2 separate regions of the Homo sapiens genome follow, and region 1 is reported to be linked to region 2. Evidence: microRNA targets listed by miRTarBase, many of them from high-throughput screens and not tested one by one. Region 2 holds a microRNA gene; the other region holds the end of a gene's coding sequence.

Region 1 (7,120 bases), not on the chromosome of region 2:
AACCTAGGCGATAACATTCAGGACACAGGCATGAACAAAGGCTTCATGACTAAAACACCAAAGAAATGGCAACAAAAGCCAGAACTGACAAATGGGATCTAATCAAACCAAAGAGCTTCTGCACAGCAAAAGAAACTATCATCAGAGTGAACAGGTAACCTACAGAATGGGAGAAAATGTTTGCAATCTGTCCATCTGACAAAGGATACATTGTATCCTTTGTCTATCTTTGGATAGATAAAATATCCAGACTCTACAAAGAACTTAAACAAATTTACAAGAAAAAAACAAACAGCCCCATCAAGAAGTGGGCAAAGGATATGAACAAATACTTCTCAAAAGAAGACATTTATGCAGCCAACAAACATATGAAAAAGTGCTCTTTATCACTGGTCATTAGAGAAATGCAAATCAAAACCACAATGAGATACCACCTCATGCCAGTTAGAATGGCGATCATTAAAAAGTCAGGAAACAACAGATGCTGGAGAGGATGTAGAAATAGGAACGCTTTTACACTGTTGGTGGGAATGTAAATTAGTTCAAACATTGTGGAAGACAGTGTGGCGATTCCTCAAGGATATAGAACTAGAAATACTTGAAACAAGGATATAGAACTAGAAATACTAGAAAAGTGGGTGAATGATATGAACAGACACTTCTCAGAAGAAGACATTTATACAGCCAACAAACATATTTAAAAAAAGCTCATCATCACTAGTCATTAGAGAAATGTAAATCAAAACCACAGTGAGATACCATCTCATGCCAGTTTGAATGATGATCACTAAAAAGTCAGGAAACAACAGATGCCAGAGAGGATGTGGAGAAATAGGAACACTTTTACACTGTTGGTGGGACTGTAAATTAGTTCAACCATTGTGGAAGTCAGTGTGGCGATTCCTCAAGGATCTAGAACCAGAAATACCATTTGGCCCAGCAATCCCATTACTGGGTATATACCCAAAGGATTATAAATCATTCTATAAAGCCACATGCACACGTATGTTTATTGCAGCACTGTTCACAACAGCAAAGACTTGGAACCAACCCAAATGGCCATCAATGATAGACTGGATAAAGAAAATGTGGCACATATACACCATGGAATACTATGCAGCCATAAAAAGGATGAGTTTATGTCCTCTGCAGGGACATGGAGGAAGCTGGAAACCATCATTCTCAGCAAACTAACACAAGAACAGAAAACCAAACACCGCATGTTTTCACTCATAAGTGGAAGTTGAACAGTGAGAATACATGGACACAGGGAGGAGATCACACACTGGAGTCTGTCAGGGGGTGGCGGACTAGGGGAGGGATAGCATTAGGAGAAATACCTAATGTAGATGATGGGTTGATGGGTCAGCAAACCACAATGGCACATGTATACCTATGTAACAAACTTGCACATTCTGCACATGTAACTCAGAACTTAAAGTATAATTAAAAAAAATTAAAAATAAGGACGTTTGTAGGCTTGTTTTACAGGAGGCCTTGTCCTAGAGCAAGTTCAATGACATCATCAAAGAATCCTCTTCCAGACTTTCTAATCTTCACCCTCAAACTGCAATAGTTGTTATATGACTGTCACTAGCAATTGAGACTACATGCTCCCTTATTTATATTTGGAGGGAAAGGCTGGCTTTGTGTGCTATTTTATGAAGCAGGATTTTTCTCTGCCAGATGCTTCTAGCCCCACTTTTGATTCATTGCCCCAAATTTATTTAAAGCTGTCCATCCTTGTATCCAATCACTTGTACGGGGCACGGGATTACTAAGATTGGCTTAAGATGAAACACACCCCACCCTGAGCTGGGAATGGTGTTGGCTTGCCTTGTGAAAGAAGGCTTGGCCCATGTGAAAGAAAGATGGATATCTAACCGTTTGGGGGGCGGGGGAGGCAGGGGAGATGAGGATTCATTAGGAAAGGGGAAGGGAAGAATGGAAAAGGCAAGCACTGTACTAACTACATGAAATATGCATTTGAGGCAGAGTTGATAGGGCTCACCAATGGATTGGATATTGGGAGAACAGAAGATTCAATAAGTTTCTATATTTTTGGCTTAAACAATTGGGTTGAATGTGGGTCTATTTACTGAGGTGGGGAAGACTGGAGGAAAGATCAGGTTTGAGAAGGATAATGAAGGGTTCTCTTCTCATCAAGTTAATTTTAACTCAGACATGGAGAGGTAATCAAGTTGTTAGTTGAATATATGAGATTAGAGTTTCAGGGAGAGGTCAAAACAGGAGATTTGGAATCATACATGTGGAATTGGTTTAAAAGCAACTGACACTGGTGAGATTACTAAAGAGAACATATGGATACAGCAAGAAGTAAACTCAGGACACTTAAAGGCAGAGTGCAATAGGAGCCATTAAGGTAGCTGGAAAATCCAAGGCCAGTCCCCCAGCATCATGTGTATGGGTGGAATGAGGGTGGTGCTAATTGTCAGCTCTCTGCCAAGTGGGTGGGATGTGTTACCTCTCTCAAAATGGGAAGTGTGGAACAGGAAGGATATAAATGTTTAAAAATATACAGTGCAGACGACAACATGCTGTAGAAAGCATTATTAATATAACATTCAATCTTTCAAAAGGGACTTGGCTCATTATGATAGTCCTCTAAACTTTTAGTGGGAATAGGATGGACATGCCATCCCCTACAGCAATTCTATGCCAAGGCCTAATGAAAAATGCTGACCATTATTACATCTACAATTTCATTTCAAACAGAACTGAATTTTGGAAAATAATTATGAAAAATTATAGGGGAAAAAAGGGAGTCATTGCTAACAGAAACATTTATGTCTGTATCAATAAAAACTTCTACCATGGAGTAAATTTGCAGCAAACTTCATTTTTTCTGTGTAGCTACTCAACTAAAATTTAAGGAGCATTTATGTAAGACTATATTAAGTGCTGTTGAAAGAGAAACCCTAAGTTGTGCAGAATAGTCCCTTCCATTGAAGACGTTTTTTGTTTCGTTTTGTTTGGAACCACTTCCTGAGTGACTATGGGCAAATTATTCAGCATCTTGGTGCTTTTCTTCATATATGAAATGTACATGATAACATTACCTATCTCAGGGTTGTTGTGAAGATTAACACATATAAATAGCTGAGAACAACGTCTGGTACATAGTAAGCATCAGTTATTAAGGGGAGGTAAGGCAACTCCCATATAAGTGGTAGCATGGCTCAGTAAAAAAAAAAAAAAAAAAATTGATTGATTACCACCACTATATTATCACATGCTAATCTTCAGCTCAGCCCTGCAGGGATTCTTTCCATTTTATAGAACAGGAAAACTGTTAATAGGCTGTTCTGAAACTTAACACACAACTAATAAGTGGTCTAATTATGAGTCAAACCTTGAAGTAACATCAGAACTCATGCACTTTCCAAAATATCTGCAAGAAACCCAAGAGTCCGGAAACCTAGATTCTAGCTCTGTATATGCCACCTATTAGCTGTTGCAATCCTGGGCCCTTTTACTTCCTAACTTACTCTGAGACTGTTTTCTATTTGACAAAATTGTTTACAATAAACAGGCCTCTCCTCCCTGCTTCACAGGGTGGGTCACTGTGAAGGTCAAATGAGAGAAATCTACAAATTGTAAAATTTCAAATAATAATTTTTTTCATCTGCCTGACTAATCTCCTTTCCTACTTCAGATGTGTTTTTATCATCCTGATGTCAAATACCAATTTTCGGGTACCCAATCCTTAACAACTACTACCTAAATTTTGATATTTAATTAAGGACAAAACACTGGATAACTACAAATAACCCATTAAAGCCTCTGCTCAACTCCTATGAGGTTTCAAAATTATACCTCAATAATTTAAAATCATCACATTAAGTGGCCATCATTCAGGCCATCACTTAATACTGTCAGTAATCTGACACTGTTAGGGTGACCACATCCTGTAACCACAGACCAAAATATTGAGAAAATGCACATCAAAATACTTCTTAGCATGTTACAACATCAACATAGCTGCCTGTGCTTCATTATATTTATAAAAATATCACTTACCTTATACAAAAATTAATTCAAGATGGATTAAAGACTTAAATATTAGACCTAAAACCATAAAAACCCTAGAAGAAAACCTAGGCATTAACATTCAGGACATAGGCATGGGCAAGGACTTCATGTCTAAAACACCAAAAGCAATGGCAACAAAAGCCAAAATTGACAAATGGGATCTAATTAAACTAAAGAGCTTCTGCACAGCAAAACAAACTACCATCACAGTGAACAGGCAACCTACAGAATGGGAGAAAATTTTTGCAACCTACTCATCTGACAAAGGGCTAATATCCAGAATCTACAATGAACTCAAACAAATTTACAAGAAAAAAACAAACCCCATCAAAAAGTGGGTGAAGGATATGAACAGACACTTCTCAAAAGAAGACATTTATGCAGCCAAAAGACACACGAAAAAATGCTCATCATCACTAGCCATCAGAAAAACGCAAATCAAAACCACAATGAGATACCATCTCACACCAGTTAGAATGGCAATCATTAAAAAGTCAGGAAACAACAGGTGCTGGAGAGGATGTGGAGAAACAGGAACACTTTTACACTGTTGGTGGGACGGTAAACTAGTTCAACCATTGTGGAAGTCAGTGTGGCGATTCCTCAGGGATCTAGAACTAGAAATACCATTTGACCCAGCCATCCCATTACTGGGTATAGACCCAAAGGACTATAAATTATGCTGCTATAAAGACACATGCACACGTATGTTTATTGCAGCACTATTCACAATAGCAAAGACTTGGAACCAACCCAAATGTCCAGCGATAGACTGGATTAAGAAAACGTGGCACATATACACCATGGAATACTATGCAGCCATAAAAAATGATGAGTTCATGTCCTTTGTAGGGACATGGATGAAATTGGAAATCATCATTCTCAGTAAACTATCGCAAGGACAAAAAACCAAACACCGCATGTTCTCACTCATAGATGGGAATTGAACAATGAGAACACATGGACACAGGAAGGGGAACATCACACTCTGGGGACTGTTGTGGGGTGGGGAGAGGGGGGAGGGATAGCATTAAGAGATATACCTAATGCTAAATGACGAGTTAATGGGTGCAGCACACCAGCATGGCACATGTATACATATGTAACTAACCTGCACATTGTGCACATGTACCCTAAAACTTAAAGTATAATAATAATTTAAAAAAAAAGAAAAAAAGTATCACTTATCCATTCAAAACTTTTATACTTTCCAAAGTTCTTTGGTGTTCCTTATTCCATTTGATCATCTAGCAGTTCCGTTAGGCAGGCAAGGTAGGTTTATGCTTGTCTTAAAAACAGAAACATATTTATGCTCAAAATCATTTTGAAGTATAACTTGTATTTCAGGCCACCAACCCCTATTTTGGTATCTGCACTGCATTGTTACATAAATTTTACATTTGAAATTACTCAACACTACAGATTGATTGTAGTTCTTAGTAACAACATTTACATTTGAAAATATTCCTAAAAAATACCCCGTACATTTAAGTCATCACAAAGAATCCTTTACAAACCAAATTAAATCTCCCATTCACAAAAGTGATGTGGCAACAGCTATCACTCTGTGAAAACTCAGTTGTACTAAATGAGCCTGCTATGTAGTACCTGAAAATATGCACTTGTTGATAAAGTATCTTGAGCCCACTTCCTCAATTTTAATAGAAGACACCATTCTTACTGTGATTAAACTACTTTGGACTTTAAGTACCAATAATACGCTAACAACCATTAATAATATTATTAATGGCTCAGGAACTAAGTAAATTACAGCAATTTAAAATGATTAATATTTTTAAAACACAGGTTTTGAAAGGTCACCTTATAAATGTCAGCAAATGTTGCCTAAGCTATCAAAATACAGAAGAGATTAAGGTTCAATGTGATGTAAAAGAAATTCCTTATAAAATAGAAGTAACAATTAATTGATGTGGTTTAAGAAAAGTACTGAATTGGGAATCAGGTGAAATCTACTCCAGATCATTTAACCTGAGCCTCACTCAGTTAACATTAAAAAAAAAAAAGAAAATTTCATAATATGAAATTTTACTATCTATATATAATAAGGTTTTGGAAAATCATGACAAGAAAATTGATTAGAAGCAAAAGATTAAGACTTCTGAACCAAACCAAGATTATATCAAAACATTTATTTTTTGTGTTACAAAAACACAAATAAATCCAAGCAGATAATGAAATAAACACATTTTTTTAGTGTCCCATCCTGGGTTCTCTGCCCTAGAATGTATTAAGCAGGTCAAGTTTAGGTTACTTCAACACTTCTTCTGGATGCTATGAAGTCTCCATCTTATAACCATGTTTCTCTAGTTCAGCTCTAAGATAAAACAGAAAGAACATCACTAGGTATTCTTTATAATAAACATTCTTTTAGAAACAATACAATAAATAAACAAATAAATGAGCTATGCCTGAGACATCAATTTACAATACCACTGAATAGTTTTACTTTTGTCTCTGAAAAAAAAACATAAGAAAATTGGATATGAGTCAATATAATACTATAAAATTTTGTTTTTCCCATTATTTAACTTGTATTTTATCTTCCTTAATTTTCTTATAAGTCTATTTGTGGAAGAAATGTGAGGGACTTACTGCTATCCTTCAAATACTTTCCAAATGCTATATGAATGTTCTGTTCCTAATAAATATTTAAACATAAGTTTTGAGACTCATTAACCTCAGGCAAAGTACACATCACTATCAAACCTTTAGGGATTTTACAATGATCATAACAGGTATTACTATATTACTGTTGTATATGCAGAAAGAATAAACAGATTGCTTTCCATATTGACATATATGTATTGCTCTAACCTTATTTGCCACAATTCAAAGTTTATGACAAAATTAGTAGATGGCTAATCCATGATAAAACACTGAGTAAACTTAAAGTATGATTAATATGCTTTACATCATTACATCCAATAAGATAGACATTTGTTCTCAAGTAAATTTGGCTTAGACACCACTACACTATTCCAATGCAAACACATGACCGGAATAATGTATAGTATTTAGCATTCATTTCTCAAAACTCCTTTGCTTT
Region 2 (7,105 bases):
ATCCAGATCCAGTTGTTCCCCATTTACTGTCAGGTCCATTTTCTTAGAATGAAACAAGGATTCACCTTTAACCTGTATTGAAAAGGAGAAAAGGAATTAAAAATATTTAAGGAAACCAACCATGGCCACATATAATTACATACAAATTGTATGCCAAAAGAACCGCTGCCAAGAATCTTTATGGTTTTAGTGATAACAATCTAATTTATTGGAACTTTAAAAAACTGTTTATTACAGGAACCTTTCAACATACACGAAAGTAGAAAGAGTAGTGCAATGATGCCCATGTACCTATCACCCAGATGCAAGGCCAACAACACATAGCCTCTCTTACTTCATCTTTTCTTCCTTTCATCCTTTCACCCCCGCCCAGATTATTTTGAAGCAAACCTCATATTTCAGCAGAAAATACCTCACTATAATATATTAAAGTTTCAACAAAATATTTTAATCATATCAGTTACAGTCTTTTTTAACAGACTTTTATTTGTGTAAATTATAAATATCATAGGGGAGCATATATGCACAAACTAAGTAACCACCAAGTAGATAATAAATAAGAATTATAAGAAAGAGGGGAGATATTTTAGGCAGAACAATTTGATAAGAGGCATAAATATACAAACAAGCAAGATGCATGTGAGTGACAGGGAGGACAAAATTAACGGCAGCAGCGAACCATTTGGTTGATCTGTAAGTGGATAAAAAGGTGATGAAATATATTTAATTCATTGAGGCATGATAGACTACATTCCTGAACACAGGAATAAAGAAGATGATACTCACATCTTTTTCAAAATAATAAGCCACATCAGCTATGTCCACATCATTCTGAGTTTTTTGAGAAGAATTTTGAACCAGATCAATAGTGATAACATTATTCTCATACTGGGGAAAAAAATTGAATAATACAAATTAATACTAATATAATCAAAATCATTTGAAAATAACATTAATTGAGAATCAGAATATTCAGTGTTTGATTTTCTATAATCTACATGCATCACTGTTCCTTTCCATTAGTGGATAACTAAGTTTATCACTAATCAAGAAATCTTTGGGAGGTCTCTAAATCTATCAAAGGGAAATAAGACAGCCATGCAACCAAACATAATTACAATGTACAATTTTTCCTAAGAGGATTTTCTTATATTGAAAAGATTTTTAAATAAGATATGAAAGTATTTTATTTGGATTAGAACTACTTTAAAACTAAATTACTAAAGAAATGAAAGGTAAGGCCGGGTGCAGTGGCTCATGCCTGTAATCCCAGCACTTTGGGAGGCTGAGGTGGGCGGATCACCTGAGGTCCGGAGTTCAAGACCAGCCTGACCAACATGGAGAAACCCCATCTCTACTAAAAATACAAAATTAGCCAGGCGTGGTGACACATTGCCTGTAATCCCAGCTACCAGGGAAGCTGAGGCAGGAGAATCGCTTGAACCTGGGAGGCAAAAGTCGTGGTGAGCCGAGATGGCGCCATTGCACTCCAGCCTGGGCAACAAGAGCGAAACTCCGTCTCAAAAAAAAAAAAAAAAAAAGAAAAGAAAAAGAAATGCAAGGTAAAACGCAGCATGCATTTTCCATGTTGTTTTTTTGTTTTGTTTTTGAGACGGAGTCTTGCTGTGTCGCCCAGGCTGGAGTGCAGTGGCACAATCTCAGCTGACTGCAAGCTCCGCCTCTCAGGTTCACGCCATACTCCTGCCTCAAGCCTCCCGAGTAGCTGGGACTACAGGTGCCCACCACCACATTCGGCTATTTTGTATGTTTTTAGTAGAGACAGGGTTTCACTGTGTTAGCCACGATGGTCTCGATCTCCTGATCTTGTGATCCACCTGCCTCGGCCTCCCAAAGTGCTGGGATTACAGGCGTGAGCCACCGTGCCCGGCCATCATTTTGTTTTTAAAGAGTAAAAAAAGTACATTCTTTCTAAAGACTCTTGAATAAATTCATACTACCTTTAAAGAGTTCCGTCACACTATTCAAGCTTCTTTTTATTTTTTAAACCAGAGTTTAAAGAGTTAAGTAAGGGCTAACTAGTTAAGGACTAGTTCCTTAAAGCAGAGAAGATGGGAGCTCCAGTAACATCCTAAAGTAAATATGCACCAAAACTGTATTTACCAAAAGTAATTTTGGTGCATATTTACTTTAAGATGTTACTGGAGCTCATCCACAGGGACAGGTTCTCCAGGATAAGAAAACTCAAATGTTTTAGGGATACTAAGAGATACTACGTTTTCTTTAGGAGTAAAACTAGGCTTTTCAAAGGCTATGGAAGGAAAACAACGATAACCAAAAACAATGGGCCGGGCGTGGTGGCTCACACCTGTAATCCCAACACTTTGAGAGGCTGAGGCAGACAGATCACTTGAGGCCAGGAGTTCGAGACCAGCCTGGCCAACATAGCAAAACCCCGCCGACACTAAAAATACAAAAATTAGCTGGGCATGGTGACATGTGCCTGTAGTCCCAGCTCCTCGGGAGGCTGAGGCATGAGAATTGCTTGAACCTTGGAAGCAGAGGTTACATTGAGCCGAGATCTTGCCATGACACTCCAGCCTGGGGAAGAGAGCAATAGTCTGTCTTAAAGAAACAAACAAACAAAAAAAAACAGTAACAGGAAATTCACATTAAGTACCCAGATCCGAAACTGTTGCTCCAGTAAGTGCATTTAACCACCACTTAAATCACTGGCTGTCCTTATACTCAAAACATACTGTCTCACCAACTGTCTGCTAAAGCTCACTTATTAAAAAATCATACCAAAATACTCGTGATAAATTTTGGATCCAGTTGATAACGCGTTGTGATCTCCTTCTGAAGTGCACTGTAAAGAATTTAAAATCTGTATTAAAAAAAAATGTTTGTACCACACAACAGTAAGAAGCACTACTCTTTAAGCAGACAGCTCAGGGTCTAAAACTGTCATTAAAGTTAAAATTTTTCTGCCATTTTGCAACTATCATAATAATAATTGATTCAGGCTGGAATCATCCATTGATATTCAAACTGCTGGGTACCAGTTTAATTAGAAAAAGAACATTTACTTAGTATCCAAGTATCTGCCCATAGATTATTTATGGATTACAAAGGGAGAATGGTAACTTCACAGTGGAAAAACCTGGTGGATACCACTTTAACCAAAGTTTACTTTACTAGTAAAGGGACAAGCTGACATCATGCAACTCCTAATGTGAAGTATTATAAAGGACACAAGATCGCTTAAGTAGTTTTCCTGTCAAAAATGCATAACCTGCTTTTAGTTAAGAGGGAACATCAAGGCTCGGGTGAGGTGGCTCATGCCTGTAATCCCAGCACTTTGGGATGCTGAGGTGGGCAGATCACCTGAGGTTGGGAGTTCGAGACCAGCCTGACCAACGTGGAGAAACCCCGTGTCTACTAAAAATACAAAAAAAATTAGCCAGGCATGGTGGCGCACGCCTGTAATCCCAGCTACTCAGGAGGCTGAGGCAGGAGAATCGCTTGAATCCGGGAAGCAGAGGTTGCGGTGAGCCGTGATTGCACCATTGCACTCCAGCCTGGGCAACAAAAGGGAAAACTCCAACTCAAAAAAAAAAAAAAAAAAGGAGGAAATATCAGACAAATCAAAATTTGAGGGACATTATATATAATGACTTGCCCATGCTCTTTAAAAATAGCAAGTTCATGGAAGACAAAGAAAGGCCAAGAAACTGTTCGATATTAAGAGACTAAAGAGTCATGACAACTAAATGTGATACATGGATCTTGGACTGGGTCCTGAATCAGAGGGGAAAAATTACTACAAAGGACAATATTGGGAAAATGGGCACAACGTGATATAACGTTAAATTTCCTGGCCGGGCGCGGAAGCTCACACCTGTAATTGCAGCACTTTGGGAGGCAGAGGCGGGAGGATCACAAGTTCAGGAGTTCGAGACCAGCCTGGCCAATATGGTGAAACCCTGTTTCTACTAAAACTACAAAAATTAGCAGGGCGTAGTGGCAGGCACCTGTAGTCCCAGCTACTTGGAAGGCTGAGGCAGGAGAATCGCTTGAAACCGGCAGGCGCAGGTTGCAGTGAGCTGAGATCACGCCACTGCACGCCAGCCTGGGTGACAGAGCGAGACTCCGTCTAAAAAAAAAAAAAAAAATTTTTCCTAAATTTGATCGTTGTATAGTGGTTTATATAAAAGAATGCCTTTTGTTCTTAGGAAAACATACACTGAAGTACTTAGGGGTAAAGGGGCCTGATGTCTACAACTTGCTCTCATGTGCTTCTGGGAAAAATATTTATACATGCATAGATACACTGATGTAAAGCACACACACATATTCATCCACACATACACATATAAAAAGCAAATGTGCCAAAATGTTAATTGGTGAATCTGAGTGAAGTGTATTCCCAGAATCTCTGTGCTATTCTTGCAACTCTATTTCAAGTAACTTTATTTTTCAGAAATATAAAAAAGCATTTAGACTTGCTTTTTCTAATGGTGTAGGATGGAAGATTTGAGCCACCAACTGTGCAAGAATATGATGCATTTAATTGCACTTACGTCCGCAAACTTTTACTATCATAAGGTTTTTCTCTTGCTTTGTGTTTTAGTTCAATGATGATCCAGCTATAAAGTAAAAAGACAATGTCAGTTGACTATAACTCAGTCTTCCATACTATTTTCCTAATAAGCTAATCCTAAAATTCTCGAATTATAAGGACTAAGAGAAAAAAAATTTATGCAGTAGCTATTCCTATAATTTCTTCCCTTACACATCCTTCATAAAGGACACACCCAGGAGGGAACACCTTTTCTAATATTGACCCTCTGTTCTCTGGACACAATACATAAAGTCACATTAAGTCAAAGTTTAGCTGGCAGTGTCATGCCCTGTTCAACTAAAAAGATGAAAAGGCATGAAAGGCCCGGGCATGGTGGCTCACAACTGTAATCCAACACTTTGGGAGGTGGAGGTGGGTGGATTGCCTGAGGTCAGGAGTTGGAGACCAGCCTGGCCAACATGGTGAAACCCCATCTCTACTAAAATACAAAAATTAGTCAGGTGTGGTATAGCTGTAGTCCCAGCTACTCAGGAGGCTAAGGCAGGAGAGTTGCTTGAACCCGGGAGGCAGAGGTTGCAGTGAGCTGAGATTGTGCCACTGCACTCCAACCTGGGCAACAAGAGTGGAAATTCCATCTCGAAAAAAAAAGAAAAGAAAAGAAAAAAGAAAAAACAAAAGAAAGGGCACAAAGAGAAAACTGACAACGAGGCTCCAGAAGACCAGAACAGAAAAACAAAGTGCCCACTTTGGTCCTGACATCCTTTCCAGTTTCTAGTCCCTTCCAATGAAGTCTTTTTTTGCTTAAGCTAGCTTGAGTGGGTTTCTGTGCCTTTTCATTAAACAATCCCTAAAACAAGCATATCTCACTTTTAAAACACAATCAATAAGCAAATACATAGGTTAAATTACATACATTTACTACTAATGCAACAATGAAATACTGAATAATGTTAAGTAAAGATATAAAAGAAAAATTATACCTAGTATGCTATCATTTATGTAAAAATAATAAAACAGATATATAACAAATTCATCAACTATCTCTGGAAGGTTATAGAATAATCAATAACATCAATTCTGTGGAGGTCCAATGGGTAGCGAGGGGGACTGGAATGAGAAGGAAGCTTTTCACTGGACACTCATATCTTCTGAATTCTAAACCATGAAATCATATTACATAATCAAAAATAAATTTAATTAAATGAATCTGAACAGCATGAAAACAAGTAGTATAGGCAGCCCCACTCACTAGGTTCTCACTCGCTCAGAGCAGGTTATTTCAGTGTCCTTGTCTGTTCTTCTGACCCCAGCAGTGTTCACACACCAGCACATGGAGGTGCCGTTGCACTGCTTGGCCTTAAAGAGCCCGCTCTCATCGCAGTCAGGATCATAAAGCCCATCATTGTTCTGGAGGGCCCCTTCAGGTTTTGCTCTTCTCCCAAGTTTTGAGCCATTCATTTCTGCCTTCATCACCAAACATTTGGCAGCCACTGAAAAAGAAACCTTAATGCCAAACTGAAAAATAACTGATTTCATGATTACGGGAAAAAAAAAATTAACTCTAAAGTTCCAGGGTCAAAGATTATTTGAAATTTATGTGTTCCCACACTTACTTTGTAACATGATTCAGATTTAAGCCAATAAAACTCTTTCCAACTCAAGGCACATCAATTAAAGAAGTATTAAGTCAAAATAAAGCTTACAGGTAATTAGGATATTTTACTCACGCTTTGAGCAAATGACAGTATTTTGTGCACCAACTGAAGTACACTGGCATTGACGATTATTATTCACAAAGCAGTTTACGGCCAGCTTGTAGTTTTCACAGACACATTCTAGAAAATTAAAAAAAAAATCTACTTTAAAATGTGGATCTATTAACTCTCATGTCCCAGCTAAGTTATATTGTAATAATAATGCCTAAAGTTACAAGGACACAAAACCTTAAAAAGTGGTTCTGAATGTTTTATTTTTCAGCTATAGACTACTGCCTAAGTGCCTGGCACTTGCTAAAGTTTGCATACTGTATACAGACACATAGTTTAATCTGCATGCATTCCTGTTTTTTTTTTTTTTTTTTTTTTTTTTTTTTAAAGATAGGGTCTCACTCTGTGGCCCAGGCTGGAATGCAGTGGCACAATCTTGGTTTACTGCAGCATGGACCTACAGGGCTCAAGTGATCCTCCTGTCTCAGCCTCCCAAGTAGCTGGGACTACAGCCATGCACCACCATGCCTGGCTAATTTTTAACTTTTTGTAGATACGGGGTTTCGCCATGTTGCCCAGGCTGGTTTTGAACTCCTGGCCTCAAGCAATCCTCCTGCCTCAGCCTCCCAAAGTGCTGGGATTACAGGCATGAGCCACTGTGCCTGGCCTCCTGTTACAATTTTTTTAAAACAAGAACACAGCTCTCCAAGTATCATTTCTAGCTTTGTCTTTGTGAAACTCCCAGTCTTAGCTCCTTCCACAGTCCTGTCCTGCTAAGTAACATCCCTGTTAGTCACTGCCTTTTTTTGTTTTTCTTCTTGAGACAGAGTCTCACTCTGTCGTGCAGGCTGGATTG

What was found. Region 2 holds the annotated microRNA hsa-miR-559 (UAAAGUAAAUAUGCACCAAAA, at 2,131-2,151, opposite strand). A microRNA usually pairs through its seed, bases 2 to 8, with sites in the 3' UTR of a target mRNA and lowers its output. Matches are read on the target gene's strand: a 7mer-m8 pairs with bases 2 to 8, a 7mer-A1 pairs with bases 2 to 7 and ends in A, and an 8mer does both.
Region 1: the mRNA of SEM1 is a reported target of hsa-miR-559. The part of its 3' UTR that is shown has no 7-base or 8-base seed match.

Annotation. Positions count from the first base shown.
Region 1 is chr7:96,682,579-96,689,698 of GRCh38, forward strand. It overlaps SEM1 (SEM1 26S proteasome subunit), which reads right to left. Exons shown (of 3, transcript NM_006304.2): 3 at 6,184-6,388. The coding sequence ends at 6,346. Among named protein-coding and RNA genes, the nearest start is that of SEM1, 24 kb to the right of the region's middle.
Region 2 is chr2:47,372,736-47,379,840 of GRCh38, reverse strand. It overlaps MIR559 (microRNA 559), which reads right to left and starts at 2,166; the gene lies at 2,071-2,166. EPCAM (epithelial cell adhesion molecule) reads right to left here. Exons shown (of 9, transcript NM_002354.3): 2 at 6,271-6,378; 3 at 5,793-6,033; 4 at 4,542-4,607; 5 at 2,764-2,827; 6 at 787-888; 7 at 1-72.